Regions from separate parts of the Homo sapiens genome. Here region 1 is linked to region 2. The links come from fine-mapping of genetic effects on gene expression. Tissue or cell type: whole blood. Region 2 holds a variant in brackets; the other region holds the start of a gene. All regions are shown on one strand. Distances are between the middles of the regions.

What was found. PIP is the estimated chance that this variant, and not a neighbour inherited with it, causes the effect.
Region 1: DNHD1 starts here. The variant in region 2 is fine-mapped to the expression of DNHD1 in whole blood (TOPMed, PIP above 0.99).

The regions. Positions count from the first base shown.
Region 1 is chr11:6,493,112-6,501,111 of GRCh38, reverse strand. It overlaps DNHD1 (dynein heavy chain domain 1), which reads right to left and starts at 3,832. Exons shown (of 43, transcript NM_144666.3): 1 at 3,781-3,832; 2 at 3,445-3,527; 3 at 2,151-3,341. The coding sequence starts at 2,896.
Region 2 is chr11:6,543,116-6,551,461 of GRCh38, reverse strand. DNHD1 (dynein heavy chain domain 1) reads right to left here. Exons shown (of 43, transcript NM_144666.3): 19 at 7,216-7,341; 20 at 6,791-6,888; 21 at 3,796-6,670; 22 at 3,422-3,599; 23 at 3,060-3,252; 24 at 2,529-2,817. Among named protein-coding and RNA genes, the nearest start is that of DNHD1, 50 kb to the right of the region's middle. The variant A/G (reference allele first, on the strand shown) is at 4,479.

The sequences.
Region 1 (8,000 bases), 50 kb after region 2:
ATTTTCATTCTTCTTACTTGTCTCATTTAACATGTAATACTACTGACTGCTCCCTCCTCCTTGAAACTCTGTTTGATGTTTTTGTTAATCTAATCTAGACTTGAACACTCCCCCCACATGCTTTCCCCCTAACTACACTCCCTCTCTCTCTCTCTCCCACCTGCAGAGAAGCAGCCAGGCAAAAGACAGTATTCTTTTGTTTTATAGCACTTATTACAATTTGTAATTATATTTTACTTGTTATCAACTTAACTATATCTCCCTAACTAAACTGTAATACCTCAAGTGAAGGGATTGAGTCTGTCTCATTCACTTCTGTATCCCTAGCATCTTGCAGATCCTAATAAATGTAGCTATCCAACACTTATTGAATGAATGAATGCCTGGCAAACCACTCCGGGAGAACGTAATGCAAATTAAGCCATATTAGCTAGACCTCAGAGGTTTACTGCCAGGTTCAAAGGGAGGGCAAAGAACTTGATCCCTTCCCAACATCTCAGCCCATGCCAATTCAGTCAAGTTCTCCCAGGAAAGGAAACTTGTACTCAAGGCACAGGGCAGCTCTTTGAAAAAGGAAAAGATTCCAATAGGGCCACCATAAATTTATGGCATTGGCCACCTCCCATTAGGGCCCCAGGAGCCTGCCTATCTATCTAACATTAGGCTTTAATGGAAAGACTTGACCCAGCCATAAACTTACAGCAAAAACTGAGGAAGCCAACCTTAATTAAAGGTAAAACTAGCCTTCTTCCCGAACAGTAAATGTGCCACAGACAGCTGCAAAGCATTGTCTAGAAAATGAGGCCAGAGGACAAGGAGAATTCCAAAACTAAAGTTAAAAAACTCTCTTGGGCACGGTGGCTTATGCCTGTAATCCCAGCATTTTGGGAGGCCGAGGTGAGCAGATCACTTGAGACCAGGAGTTGGAAACCTAGCCTGGTCAACATGGCGAAACACTGTCTCTACTGAAAATACAAAAATCAGCTGAGCGTGGTGGCATGAGCCTGTAATCCCAGCTACTCGGGAGGCTGAGGCAAAAGAATCGCTTGAACCTGTGAGGCAGAGGTTGCAGTGAGCCAAGGTCAGGCCACTGCACTCTAGCCTGGGCGACAGAGTGAGACTCTGTTTCAGAAAAAAAAAAAAAAATCGAAAGTTAGAGAACGCTGAGAAGAGAAGGTCTCTGTAAGCATTCTGAAATCCTGTAGAGAGCTCTGATAGCCAGATATTTTAAAAAAGAAAACAATAGGGCCGGGCGCAGTGACTCACGCCTGTAATCCCAGCACTTTGGGAGGCAGAGGTGGGCGGATCATGAGGTCAGGAATTCGAGACCAGCCTGGCCAACATAGTGAAACTCCGTCTCTACTAAAAATATAAAAATTAGCTGAGTATGGTGGCACGTGCCTGTAGTCCCAGCTACTCAGGAGGCTGAGGCAGGAGAATCACTTGAACCCGGGAGGCGGAGGTTGCGGTGAACCGAGACCATGCCGTTGCACTCCAGCCTGGGCGACAGAGTGAGACTCTATCTCAAAAAAGGAAAGAAAGAAAGAAAGAAACAAAAGAAAAATATATCACTCAAGGGGCCAGAGTGCCCACACTGGCAGGGCAAGAAGAAGACTCTGGAAGGGTCAAAATGAAATTCTATCCAGTAGTGCTGCCAACTCCACTCTGCCTTGGAGCCGGTTTAAGTCACATAGACATGTGGGAAGGACACTCGGACACACATTCCCCAGGGGTACCTTGAGGGAAAGACCCAACATCCAGGAATCAACTCACAGTAGGCCCAGGCAATGTTCAGTGATTATGAATGAATTATAGAAAAATAATTAAGGAGACTTCTGACATCATCTAAGAAAAAAACCTGGAAACTGAAAAGTCAAGCTGTTATTCTAAAGCTTTGGCTGCCTCATAGCTGACTTCTGATTTTCATTAATTTCTGTATTTCTCTATGGGGATTAAGACTAACACCACTGGGTTTATTTTGCAGAGAAAAAGGAAGAGGAAAGTAGCCTCACACTAGCTTTGTGTGGAGTTGGGCTAATCCCTGTGATAAACAGAGAGCTGGATCTAAACTTCCAAGTGACCCCAGAGGCACCCATAAAACAGCAACTTTTTCTCCTCTGCTCAAGCCCTAGACTGAGTCCCTCACTTACCTGGTCTCTTTTCTTCCAACAGGCTCCACCTCTGCATTGTCAGTGTCACTGCTTTCATACCGTACAGGGATGTCCGCTGCCAGTGCCAAGGGAAGGAGACTAAGTCCATCCAGCCACACAGCCTCTTCTAGGGCCACCTGAGCACCAACAATGCCCAGGCAGCGCTGTAGCTCAGGCAGTGTCAATGGTCGCAGCCAGGTGGCCAGCTCCTCCTTTACTTGCTGCCTGCTCCACTGGGCCTGCACAAAAGGGCAAGCTGGGCATGGGGGCCTGTGATGGAGCCTCCGCTTCTGGGGACAGCAGTCAGCATGGGAAGCACTGTCTAACAAAGAGCTGTCTGGAGGAAAGGCCTGGACAATGGCACCTAGCAGGTCCAGATGGAGGTGGGTTTGGACCCAGGGTGCCCAGCAGTACAGCTGCTCCAGGAAGGGCAGCAAATCAAGGTGGCCAACTAGCAACTCACGATATGGAGGCAGTAGACCCAGTACTGCATGAAGATAGCGCCAAGCTGCAGGGCTACTGTCCTGCAACACAGCTGAGAACAGAGTTCGGAGCTCAGCTAGCAGGAGTTCCAGCACTGTGGGCTGCTCTGACTCAGTCACTGGCTTCACGAACTGCCTCTGTTTCTGCTGGCAGGCCAAGGGCTGTTCTTTGCTGTCCAAGACACATATGGAGTGCCAAGACTTAAGGGAATCAGATGATGTCTCATCAGAAGACAAACCTACCCTCCTCTCCTCCGGGACCATGAGGAGCTGGGCATTCAACTGCTGTCGAAGTGACCTTGCCCATAGCTCAGGCTCCAACTGCCAGTTCCAGGATGCCAGATGCGGGGCCTCACCTGCATGGGCCAGCCCAGCAGAGGGGCCAGAGAAGGGACCTCAGGCTCTGGGCAGGGGATGGTCAGAGTCAATGGGGTTAGGAGGAAGAAAGGACCTGGGACAGGGAAATAGATGGAGCTACAGAGCAGAGCCAGACCAGCAGAGAGCCTTTCCTGAGACCCTCAGGCCCTCCCTACTGCTTCCCCAAAGACTCTGGTAAGGAGCAGGCCTAAGACAGACGTGAGAGCCCTCCTTGCAGAAGAGTTCCTTCTTACCTCCCAGTACCCTGTCCCCCTCACCTGGCCTAGGGGGGTTAGGAGGCAAGGCAAGGGAAGAGAGCCCGATCTGCTGATGAGGTTTCATTGAAGAGTGCCTGCTGGAGCAGTGAATGAACTTAGACTTGAGTTCCAGTCTGAGGCTCACCCTAATCATAGCCACCCATACACGGAGAGACTCGCACACAGACGTGCAATCACCTGAAGAGGCAAACTGACACACCGACAGAGCTCACTCTGAACCTCGGTCACAGCAAGGAATCTGCACTCGAGCTGGCGATCGCCTGAAAAACGGGTTAACAGGTCGTCACTCGAAGGCAGCAGAGCCCCAGTCCCATGACGTCTTCGCCCACAGCCTAAGGAGGTCGTGAAGACAGAAAGCCGAGGAGCAGGCACAGCAAATGATGGTCAGGATGCAGGTAGGGGAAGACGTTAACAGGCAAAGGAGGGGGCTGGGAGAGCGGGGAAGAGGAGGCGGACTCTGTGGGAGGGGGTCCTAGGGAACAAAGAGAAATGGATCCGGAGCCGAGGACTCACCCGCAGCTCCACCCGCACCCAGCTGTTAGAACCGTTACAAGATTCCAGAAGGACCGAGTCTTTGCCAGGAGCATCCGGGGGAGCCAGAAAGAGGAGGGGCCAGGGTCCGATATGGGCGGGGCCGAGAGGGCAGAGCCCAAGCCTGGAGGGGCAGAACTAGGTTCAACCTGTGGGCTAAGGCTTGCCTGGGACAGGGACCTGTAGAGGACCAGGCGGGGTCTGAACTGCACGTGCAGTACGGTTGACTCGGGAGACTAGCAATCCAGAGGGTGTCGTAAGCAGGTGTTTATATCCATTCGCTGAGTATCTAAACTAGTGCCAGGTCTTTGGTATGTCTTTGGTACTCCCCCATCCCCACCCCCAACGTATCCATCTACCCTATCCCACCTCCCCAAAAGAAGCCCGAATAAAACAAAATCCTTGATCTCAAGGAGCTCAACATCTATTTGGCACGGGGGGAGGGGGATTTTTTGGGGAAGGGCTTATGGAGGGGCTAATTTTTAAAAATTAAGTTGAATGAGGCCGGGCGCGGTGGCTCATGCCTGTAATCCCAGCATTTTGAGAGGCCGAGGCGGGTGGATCACGAGGTCAGGAGATCGAGACCATCCTGGCTAACACGGTGAAACCCTGTCTCTACTAAAAATACAAAAAAATTAGCCGAGCGTGGCGGTGGGCGCCTGTAGTCCCAGCTACTGGGGAGGCTGAGGCAGGAGAATGGCGTGAACCCAGGAGGCGGAGCTTGCAGTGAGCAGAGATCGCGCCACTGCACTCCAGCCTGGGCGACAGAGGGAGACTCTATCTCAAAAAAAAAAAAAAAAAAAAAAAAGTTGATGATTAAAATAAAAAAAGAAATTCAGCCCACCTCTCCTCTGAAATCAGATTAGTATATCCAACTGCCTACTTAATGTCTCCACCTGGAGAGCTTATAGGTATCTCAAACTTAAAATGTCCAAAAGCAGGCTCCTAACCACCCTTTCCCCACCAAAGAAATGCTGCTCCTTTCACTGTCTTTCCCACCTCAGTCAATGGCAAATCCATTCTTTCTGGTTTCTCACACCAAAACCTTGGAGTCAGCTTTGAGACCTCTTCCAAACCCCTTCTTTCTCTTTCCCTCTTCTTTTTCCCTTTCTCTTTCTCTCTCTCCCCCTCCCTCCATAAGTAATCCTTCAGGAAATTCTGCTGGTTGTGCCTTCAGAATATATCCAGAATCCAACTATTTCCCACCATCTTAAGTACTACAACCTTGGTCTAAGCTGCTATCATTTCTCACCTGGGTTTTTCCACAGCCTTTGAACTGTTCTCCTTGCCTCAGATCCTTCTCATGCTTCTCACCATTGCCCCTACAATCCATTCTTTTTAGAGCAGCCAGTGATCCTTTTCAAATATAGGCAGATCCTATAACTCCTCTGCTCATAGCTCACTAATGCCCCCTCATCTAATTCCTTCAGCTGAAGGCCAAAGTCCTATCATGGCCTACAAATTGCTGATAACTGCCTGCTACCTCTGTAGGCTTCTCTCTTCACATTCACACTCTACTACTGCTGTGCCTGAATCACACCAGCCATACCCCCACCTCACAGACTACATACAAGCTGTGCTGTCTGCTTGTGTATCAGTTAGGAGATACACAAGTTATGACTGTTATTTATTTATTTTTTTGTAGAGACAGGGTCTCACTATGTTGCCCAGGCTGGTCTCGAGCCTCTGGCCTCTAGCAATCCTCCCACCTCACCCCTAAAGTGCTGGGATTACAGGCGCGAGCTATTATGCCCGGCTGTGATGGTTAATTTTATTTGTCAATTTGACGGAGCTAAGGGATGCTCAGATAGCTGGTAAAGCATTATTTCTGGGTGTGTCTTTGAGGGTATTCCTGGAAGAGATTAGTATTTGAATAGGTAGACTAAGTAAAGATCATCCTCACCAATGTGGATGGGCATTGTACAATCTGTTGCCTAAACAGAATTTAAACAGGCAGCTGGTGGACTTGCTGTTTTAGCTGAGACATTCATCTTCTGTCCATGGACATCAGTGCTCCTGGTTCTCAGGCCTTCAAACTTGGATTGAATTCCACCACCAGATTTCCTGGTTCTCTAGTTTGTAGACAGCAGATTGTGGGACTTCTCAGCCTATCAGTTCTGTTTCTCTGGAGAACCCCCACTAACGCGCAAGTTTTCTGGAGCTGCATAACAAGTTATTACAAACTAAGCAGCTTAAAAACAACACCTATGTAGTACCTCACAGTTCTGTAGATCAGATGTCCAGCATGACTTTACTGGATTCTTTGCTCAGGGTATCATAAGCCTGAAGTCAACATGTTGACGGGGCTACTCATCTGGTGGCTCTAGGGGGTGGGGGGTGTGGGGGGATCCACTTCCAAGCTATTATTGTTGTTGGCAAGATTCAGTTTCTTGCAGTTCTAAGACTGATGTCCCTGTTTTCTTCATGGCCATTAGCCAGGAGCCACTCTCAGGTCCTAGAGGCCACCTGTCTTCCTTGACATGTGGTTCCTCCATTTTCAAGCCAACAACAGTGCCTCTAACCCTTCTCATGCTTCACACTTTTCTGATGTCCCCTTCTGCAACCATAAAGAAAACACTCTGCTTTTAAAGGGCTCATGTGACTCATGTGACTAGATCAGGCCCACCCAGACAATCGCTCTTACAGTCAACTATGCCATATATTATAACCTTCTCACATAAGTAAAATTTGTCACATTCACAGTCCCATGGAATATGCAGCGTATACTAGGGAGATATATACTAGAGAGCAGGAAATCTCAGAGACAGTGGTCCCCAACCTTTTTGGCACCATGGACCAGTGTAGTGGAAGACAATTTTTCCACGGACCAGGGGAGGGGTTAACGGTTTCAGGATGATTCAAATGCATTACATTTATTGTGAGCTTTACTTATTTTACTATCACATTGTAATATATAATAATTATACAACTCACCATAATGTAGAATCAGTGGGAGCCCTGAGCTTGTTTTCCTGCAACTAGACAATCCGATCTGGGGGTGATGGGAGACAGTGACAGATCATCAGACATTAGATTCTCATAAGGAGCATGCCACCTAGCATGTGCTATTCACAATAGGGTTCATGCTCCTATGAGAATCTAATGCCACCAATGATCTGACAAGAGGCAGAGCTCAGGTAGTAATGTGAGCGATGGAGAGTGGCTGTAAATACAGATGAAGCTTCACCTGCTCACCCACCACTCACCTCCTGCTGTGTAGCCTGGTTCCTAACAGGCCATGACTGGTACCAGTCTGTGGCCCGGGGGTTGGGGACCCCTGATCTAAAACTTCTACCTACCACACAAATGCTGTAATAAAAAGACCCAAAATATCATGGCTTAAACATGATAGTTTATTTTTTTCTCTCACATAACCATCCAAATATAAGTACTCTGAGGCTACCACGGTAGCCTTCAGTTGTTCTGCCTTCTCCAAGGAAGTAGTCCTCATCTTTAAGGTCCAAAATAATTTACCACCATGTGTGCCACGTCCCATCCCAACTAGTGAGATGGAGGGAAAAGGAAAGGAGAAGGCATACCCTTTCTTTTAAGGGCACAGCCTGGCAACTGCACACATCAATCACATGACCAAGCCTAGCTGTAAGGAAAGCTACAAAATCTAATCTTCATTTTCAGTGGTCATATGCCAACAGAAAATTTAGAGGTTCTTTACATAAAGAAAGGAGACAATGGATACTAGAGGACCACTAGTGGTTTACACAACTAGTTGAACAGTAGAAGAGTGAACACTTCTTCAAGATGCTCTCAAGGCTTACTCTCTCAATTCTCTGCTCAAATGTCACCTTATTAGTGAGTTCTTCCCTAACTGCCCAACAGAAAATAGCAACTCTCTCCCCAACATCCTTATCCTCTTTACTTGCATTACTTCTCTCCACAGCACTTATTACCACTTCATATAAATACTTATTTATTTCCTATTTCCCCTGACTAGAAATATAAGCTCCATGGTAGCAGAGATTCTGATTGCTGCCTACTCTATCCCCAGCTCCTATACTAGGCACCATGAGTACATGATCAGAAAATATTCATGGAAAAAAATACATAAATGTATAACAATCTTCATTTGTGAGTAAGAAGATGGGCTCTGGAATCAGACTGCCTGGATTGAAATCCTAACTTCATCACTTACTAGTCATGGGATATTTTACCTCAGTTTCACTTTTTGAAAATGAAGATAATAA
Region 2 (8,346 bases):
TGTTCTTTATTATTGATTTCCTTTTAATTGCTTTGGGTATAACTTGCTCTTCTTTTTCTAGAGTCTTAAGCTGAAAATTTAGGTCATTGATTCCAAGCTTTTCTCTCTAAGATAGATATTTAAAGCTATAACCTTTAGTTGCATCTCACAAATTTTGATATGTTTTGTTTTCATTATTATTTAGTTCAAAACATTCTCTAATTTCTCTTGTAATTTCTTTTTTGGTACATTATTTAGAAGTGTGTTAATTTTAAAGAATTTGGAAATTCTCTAGGCATCTTATCAATATTTGTATTGTTATGGTCAGATAAAATATTATTTAAAATGTTAATCCTTTGAAATTTGTTGAGACTTATTTTGTAACCCAGCATATGGTCTATCTTGGTGAATGTTTCATGTGCATTTGAAAAGAAGGTGCATTTTGCAGTTGGTGAGTATAATGTTTTGTAAATGTCAGTGTGTTGCTAGTGTTATTCAGATCTTTAATGTCCCTACTTTCTTGCTCCTTGTCTTATCAGTTATTGTGAGAGGCATATTAATTTCTTAATATGATTTCAGATTTACTATGTCTCTTTTGTTTCTATTGGCTTTTTTTCCCTATACTTAAATGTCTATTTTAGGTGTGGACACATTTAAGACTTTTGTCTTTCTGATGAGTTGAATCTTTCAATTATGAGATGTCCTTTTCTATCTCTGGTAATATCCTTTGTCTTAAAGTGCTTTGGTATTAATATTGCCACATCAACTTCCTTATGCAAACTATTTCTGTAGTAAATATTTTGCATTAAAAACTTCTTTTAATCTATCTGTGTTTTTATATTTAAAGTGCATCTTTTGGACAGCGTACAGCTATATAGATCTCAGGGTCAGTTTCTATTCTATTGCTTGCTTCTTCTTGACAGCAGGTCACATTATTTTCTGGGGGTTTTTGTTGGCATGTCTATTTATTTTTTATTTTATACTGGATGTTCTGGTGGTTGTCACTCAAGGACACCTTTTACATTCTGCCAGCAGTAATATTCTTCACTCTACAATGTTGCTGAAGTCTCTTCTCAGCTGAAATCTCTTCATATATCTGACTGTACCACTCTTTACTCCTTCTATTGTCTCTAATTTTGTGCAAATTCATTGCAAAGACCAAATAATATAGCTGGAAGGAACTACAGGTTTTGGAACCAAATAGACTTGAATTTTAATCTTGGTTCTGACACTTCATAGCTAGGGTATCTTGGGCAAGTTCTAAAATCTCTGTCTCTGTTTCTTCATCTTTAAAATAATTGCAAAAATTCCCCATCTTACTTGGCTTTTATGAGCACTGAAGATGACATAGACATATCATAGAGCACATAGTAGATATTCAATAAATTGTACTGGCTATTATTAAGTACGAATACATCTGGTTCAAGTTTTCTACATCTCATAAGAGACTTCGCTGTTTAACTGGATAGCCTATCCAGTGCTTCAGCCCATTGACTTCCTTGACTCCAACAACCTCTACCTAAAATTCACTTCCCAATCCCATGGCCATATTTAGAAACTCTCATCATCTAGAGGCATACCACTTTAGAAACTTTACACTTCAATATCCCAAATTTTTATCAAGATTTTTCTCCTTTCCTTTGTTATCTTGTCTTCTACAAACTTTTATTGAGCACTTACTTCCTGTTGGGTCTACCAAAATGAATGAGACAAATTTCTGTTCTCTGTTCTCATAAATCTCCAAGTGTGGTGAAAGGGACAGATAGGCAAGCATACAATAATAAAATCATGGTTATCACAGATTATTGTACAGAGCACAGGATGGATATCTAACCGAGCCTATGGATCAGGCTTCCTGGAGAAGCTACTGCCTTAGGTAATTTAGAAATAATAAGTAGAATTTAGCCACATAGAGAAGGCAGAGAGGACAGCAATCCCAGGGTCTAGAGGAAGCCTGACTTGTTAAGTCCAATTAGAGAGAGTGTAAGAGGACACAGAAGAAAGCCTCATCACAGAAAGCTTTGTAAGAGCATTTGTCAGATTTCCAAGTAAAGATCATCTGAACCATGGAAATAAGTGGAAAGATTCAAGAAATATGAAGGAGGTAGGATTGAAAAGACATGGTGACTGGATATTGGTGAAGGAGAATGAGATGTCAACAAGATTTCTGGCTTACATGACTGGCTGGATGGTGAAACTAAGAGGACAGACAGGAGCAGATTTTGGCCGCGGGGAGATGATGAGCTCAGGGTTGGGTCTGAGGTACCAACAGGACAACAAGGTGGAGACGTACAGTAGACAGCTGGATAGACAGATCTGGTGCTTAGAAAAGAAGTGAGATTGGACACAGAGATTTAGCAAAGCAGAGATGAGGCCATGAGAGTGGATGGGATTGTTCAGGGAGCATATGTAGAATGAGAAGATATTAAGAACAGAACACTAAAGTTAGATCTACAGACATATATTTGAGAGTCAATGAATATTGCTAGGGATTTTATAGTCTCAAGAGATGACAGTAGCTCCTTCCTTCCCTCTTCGCAGCTCCTCACCAGAAGTGGCTAGGTGCAGGTCCTCCAGCAAGAAGAGGAGGGAGGGTTTAGAATCCTGGTGATGCCCAGGCTGTGGGCTGGCTTGTGTTTGGCCCTGGATTCCTCTGCTCAGCAGGAGACGGAGGTGGGAGGAACTGAAGGCAGGGTGGATGGGGCTGTATATGTAAGGGTGATGTGGCTCTACCAGCACCTCCACAAAGGCTGACTTCCCTGTTGCTGCCTCTCCAGCCAGCAACACTGGCTGTCCCCCTGACAGAAGCAGGTCCACCACATACAAGAGCCGTTCAGTCTGCAAGACAGAAGTGGGACTTACTGCAGCACCTCCAGTATAAGACAGTAATCTAGCTGAAAATAAAAGTCTAAGGGACTTGTCCTAGAGCTGTACTTGGAAAATATTTCATGTATTCTTGTGATTGTGAAAATATATCAAAGAAAGGGAGCAAGTGGGCCTCAGCTGATCTTTGAACATGGATTACCCCTAAAATAAGTCCTGAAGTTCTAACCCCAGCTCTTGCCTTACTGTCCTCACACCTGGATAGAAGGGTGAAAGGTGCCCAAAGTTCCTTTGATGTGGCTGCTCAGGTATTGGCCAGTGAAGGGGACCAGTGTTCCATCTTCAGGGCTTACATGTAGATCAAACACCAAGGCTGAGGGTGGTGGCTCAGGGTAGTTGGAGAGGCGACTAATAGAATCCCTTATGAAGGTATCAAAGATGGGCCAGAACCTGCTCAGATGGACACACAGGCAAAAGCGTCAGACAGTTACAACACTTCCATTTATGACACACTCACACACTCCACCATACCCTAACAGTGATGTCATGTGGGTTTTTACTTCCATGGGCCAGTCCATCTCAGCCCTCTGCATCTCCCATCCCCCATCCTGGTAGGTACCTGGAGGGAAGGTGGGCTCCAAAGCCCCAGATCAAGGCAAAAAGAAAACTGCTGACAGCCAGCAAGTGTTCCCTGCACTTATCTGGCACATCGTCACTGTCAACCTGGGACCGGTTTAGAAAGCTGCTTTTTGAAGACCTGAAGCTTTGGGCCACAGGATCACTATAGCTGAGGTCCTCTGTGAAAGTTGCCATGGCCACGAGAGGAGCCCCAGTAGAAAAAGGTGGAAGGTGAAAGAAAGAAAAAAGGTTGACAGTATTACTTTTCACTCCTGGCCCAGATCCACCAAAGAACACACGCCCCAGGCTCCAGCTATATACCCCAGCTACCCTTAAGGCCCCATCTCTCTCAAACCAGCCCGTCCATCTTCCCACCTGGGCCAGGGGCCTTCTCCTCCTTTAGGCGAAGGTGGAGGTCAAGCAGACTATGCAAGATGCGTGCCATGCTGGTAACTTCTGCCACACCTGCACAAACAGCCTGCTGCCCGTGTACCTGCAGCAGAGAGCTGACACCTTGGCAGGTGAGGAATCGCAATGTTGCAGGCACCAGAACCTCAGCCATGTGGTTGAGCTCAGCGACTGTCCGGTGCTGCAGGCGGTACTCATAAGGAAGGGATGCCATCAGGGCACTAAGTATACACTGCCAAGTCTGCTCTCCACCACACCAGACTAGGGCACAACAGCCTACCACTGTGGGGGATATGCCTGTTGTGTCAGCCACCTCCATCAAGAGAAAGGTGCCTGGGGGTCGTGCTATCTGCTGTCCACTGGGGAGACTAAGCTGGGGAAGCTCACTCAGGAGGCAAGTGATGGAGTCCAGCCAAGCACCATTGGAGGCTCCATCACATATTATCCAGTGCTGGATCCCGATTGATTCCTCTGTCTGCCTCTTTTGGCCCATGTTGTTACACTGACCGGCTGCACGAAGTACCTTGGGAAAGATGCCATGATGCCAGCAGGAGCCCTCTAGCCATCCCAGGAACTCCTGGGGGCTGAGGCCACTGGGGTACAGGTGGGTAATTTCCACAGGCTGGCAGCCTTGGGTTGAGGTGTCCTCC[A/G]TGGCTGCCAGCCGATTCTGGATCTTAAATAAGCTGTGCCAACAAGTGGTCTTGCCGCTGCCCGCAGGGCCCAGGAGCAGAATGCCTGAGGCCCGGCTCAGGGCCTGGCTCAACTGTTCCAAGGACCCCAAAATGTCAGGGCTGGGATCCAGACCTACCTGTTGCAGTTCCTCCACCACCAATGGCTTCATCAGCTTGTAAGTCATAGGTTCTGCCAGCACTTGGCTGGCGCTAGGGAAAAGCGCACACAACAGCCCTCGGAGGTTGTGCAGGTGGAGCCCATTGAGAATGCTAAACAGTGGTGAGCGCAGTAGGGCAGCCTCCTCAATGGCAGCTAGGCTGCGAGGCTTCTGGCACTTCGGTTCCTCCTTGGTCACATTTAGTGTCCGTATTGTGTCTTCCAGTATCTGCTTGAGCAGTGGCAGGCGGCAGGGCAGGGGCCCAGACACCAGCTCACGCTCTAGAGAGAAGAATTTGGATAGGCGGGTAGCCATCTGGAAGGCATCCCTCATCCCTGCACCCAGCAGAGTCAGCTCTGCCACTTGCCGCAGATCAGGCAATGCCAATGCCACAGGCCGCAGCAGCAGGTGCAGGTTGGCAGGCACAGCAGAGCTCAGGGCACGCAGTACCAGGAGACAGCCATAGCCAAGGCGCACAGACACGTGATGTTTTTCAAAGAAGCTACTGCCAAGGAGCTGGGGCTGGGTGGGGTCTATGGTGCTTGTGTTTCGGGAAGCCTCCTGGTACAGTGGGGCATACAAGTGGTGCAGTTCACCCAGGCGCTGGCCCAGGGCAGAGAGCAAGCCAGGGGGCAGCTGATGAACTTTCTCCAACAGCAGCCAGGCACCACCCTGCAGGGCACCATTCAGATAGTTGCTCAGGCATTGAGCCTCTATCTGAGGTGAGCAGGGTAGCATCACCAGCTGGCGGCCCAGGGCCTGTGCCAGGCTGTTCACTATAGCTCTCTTGCCCACACCATTAGGACCCAGTACGGTCCCACAGGCCACCTCCTCTAGGGCCAATAATAGTACCAGGGCTGGCCGTTCAGGCAGTAGGCTGGGTAGAGGCCCTAGTCTAGGTCCCAGATACTCGTAATTGTACAGGAAGGACCTGCCTAGCACATCTATCCAGCATGCCGCTGGTGACAGAGAGGGTTCAGAAGATGCAATAGTCTTAAGACTCTGTAGGGGGCTTTTGGGGATTATGTGAGGTGAACCCAAGTGATACTTGAGTTGGCGGACCCAGTGAAAGTCTGTGAGATCACTGACCTGGTGCTGTTCCAGCAGCTGTGCTATATCCCGGTGAGTCACTGCCATGACCAGCAGGGCACTGAGAAGGCTGGTCTGGCGGACAGAAGGCAGGGACTGCCCACCTTGGGAAGCCCTCTGGGCCCGCATAAAATTCACCAGTACCTCAAGCTTGCGCATATGCATGGAGACCATGGCCAGGGTACCCCACTCAAGCAGAGCCTCCTCCATCTCGGCCCGCCATACCACCTCCTCTGCCACCAGCACACACTGCCATGGGAAGGCCTGGACTAAGTCGATCCAGTGCTGGACATACAGTTGCAGGTACAACTTGTTTTGCTTGGGCAGTTGCTTGAGGGCCTCACCTAGAGATGGGCCTCGAGCAAGGCGAGCAGCCACACAGCCCTGCAGCATGTGCACCAGTGCCAAGCGCAGACACTTCTCCAGAGAGGCCAGCCACTTAGGGAGATCTGGATGCAGAGGAAGGGGACCCTGCAGCTTCACCTCCTCCCCACCTGCCCCTAGCACTGCAAGTGCCTCCACCTGAGTCTGTGTGTTTGGGCTTGACTCCCAGTCATCTGTGTTTTTCTCACCAGTTGGGCAAGACCTGAAGCTCACAGCATGCACATGAGGAAAGCAGCGTCGTACCCATAGCTGGGCTTCGCATGATTCCAGTCGAGCAGCCAGCAGGGCTACCAGCTCACTGTCACTAAGGAAGAAGAGGCGGGGGAAGTGAGCACACACCCCATAGAGCACGCTCTCCAGACTCATGATGATGCCCTCCAGCTCCACCGATCCTGCTTGCAGCAGTTGTTGCAGCTGCTGGCCTTGGAAGTAAGGGCTCCTCTCGGCACTGGGCACTACAAGTGACAGAACCATGGGGTCAGCTACAGAGATGCGCATCAGGGTTCGATACTGGTCATCCATGACCTTGAAACGAGAGTTCTGTGGTGAGGGAGAGGATAAAAGTGAGGGCCAATATGAAGTGGCAGCTCCCCTTTCCCACGCTGAGCCCTGCTATTCAGGAACCCTTCTTGCCCTCTCTGCCTCAACCCCCTTCCCTACCAGGTCAGCATTAGGAAACTGGATCTTCATCTCATGCAGAACTTTATTCAGAAAAATCCACTTCTGCTGGAAAGTCAGCCACACCTCCAGCAGGGCACCTGTGTAAGCAGCCAGAGGAATGCTGGTGGGAAACACTAGGGTTCTACCTTCTGCAGGGGAGTCCACCCTGCTCCTGACCTCTCAGGTACCCCACCAGCCCAAGCAAAATACTCTGCCCAGCAGGACTCAGGGAACTTGCTTGAGGGAGAAAAAACTTTCACTGTGAATAAAAACCTGATCTCTTCATCCCAAGAAACAGCCCTGAAGGAGGTCCTCACTGTGTTCTTCATATCTTCTCCCACCCAACCTCCACCTCTCACCCCCATCCCTCTGGGACATCCTGCCTCAGGTCTCACCCATCAGCCTGGCTAGAGGCCTGCACTTACCCAGGCCATGCATGATGGCCACCCACTCCAAAGCTATTTTGTTTAAATCTCCTGACTTTTCGATGGCCAAGATCTTGGACAACACCTGAAGACTTTCCTGGATGGAATCCTGCAGGTTGCTGTAATCTAAGACAGAAAAAGCTGAACTGGCAGTCAGATGAGGCAAGGGCCGGGGCTGGGGGAGAGAAGAGGAGACCAGGGGAACCTTCCAGGAGAGGCAGTTACAGAGACCCTGATGCCCTTTCTGTCTTTTTCTTTCCCTTTTTTTTTTTTTTTTTTTTTTTTTTTGAGACAGAGTCTCGCTTTGTTGCCCAGGCTAGAGTGCAATGGCACGATCTCAGCTCACTGTACTATGCTTCCTGGGTTCAAGCAATTCACCTGCCTCAGCCTCCTGAGTAGCTGGGATTACAGGTGTGTGCCACCATGTCCGGCTAATTTTTTGTATGTTTAGTAGAGACGGGGTTTCACCATGTTCATCAGGCTGGTCTCGAACTCCCAACCTCAGGTGATCCACCCACCTCAGCCTCCCAAAGTGCTAGGATTACAGGTGTAAGCCACCATGCCCAGCTGCCCTTTCTGCCTTTAAGGATTCCATCAGCCAATATGTAGAGCCAGTAAAGCACTGGGGTCTCAAAATGGTGAGAGAAGAAGCTCCTCCTTTCCCAAGGCACTGTGGGCAGACTCCAGGCCAGCTAATTTCCCTGACTAGCTGCTATGAGTATCCACGTAACTCCATGGAAGTGCTTTGTAAGAACTAGAGCCTCTAGCCCGGGAAGAGGGCTGAATGGCTCCAGGACCCTACGTAATATTTCTATAGCAAGAATGCCCATTCTGTCTTAAAACGGGTCTTGGTAGAGAAGCTGAGAACAAACTTTTCTCTCATAGTCTTAGTGCTTGGCTCCCTGGTGCTGCTTAAAGAGTTATCCCTTCATGCCACAAGTGCTTGGTAAGACTAGGGCTGGAAATGAGGTAGGGACACTAATTGGGGTAAAAATGAGAAGAATCAAGAAAGGAGGTTTATTCAGACACATGTAGGACTCTCCAAACATCCCTGGTGGGAAGAAAACTCATTATCCTGCTCTCAGAGTCACACAACTTCTACTCCACTCTCTAGAGAAAACAGCACTGGAC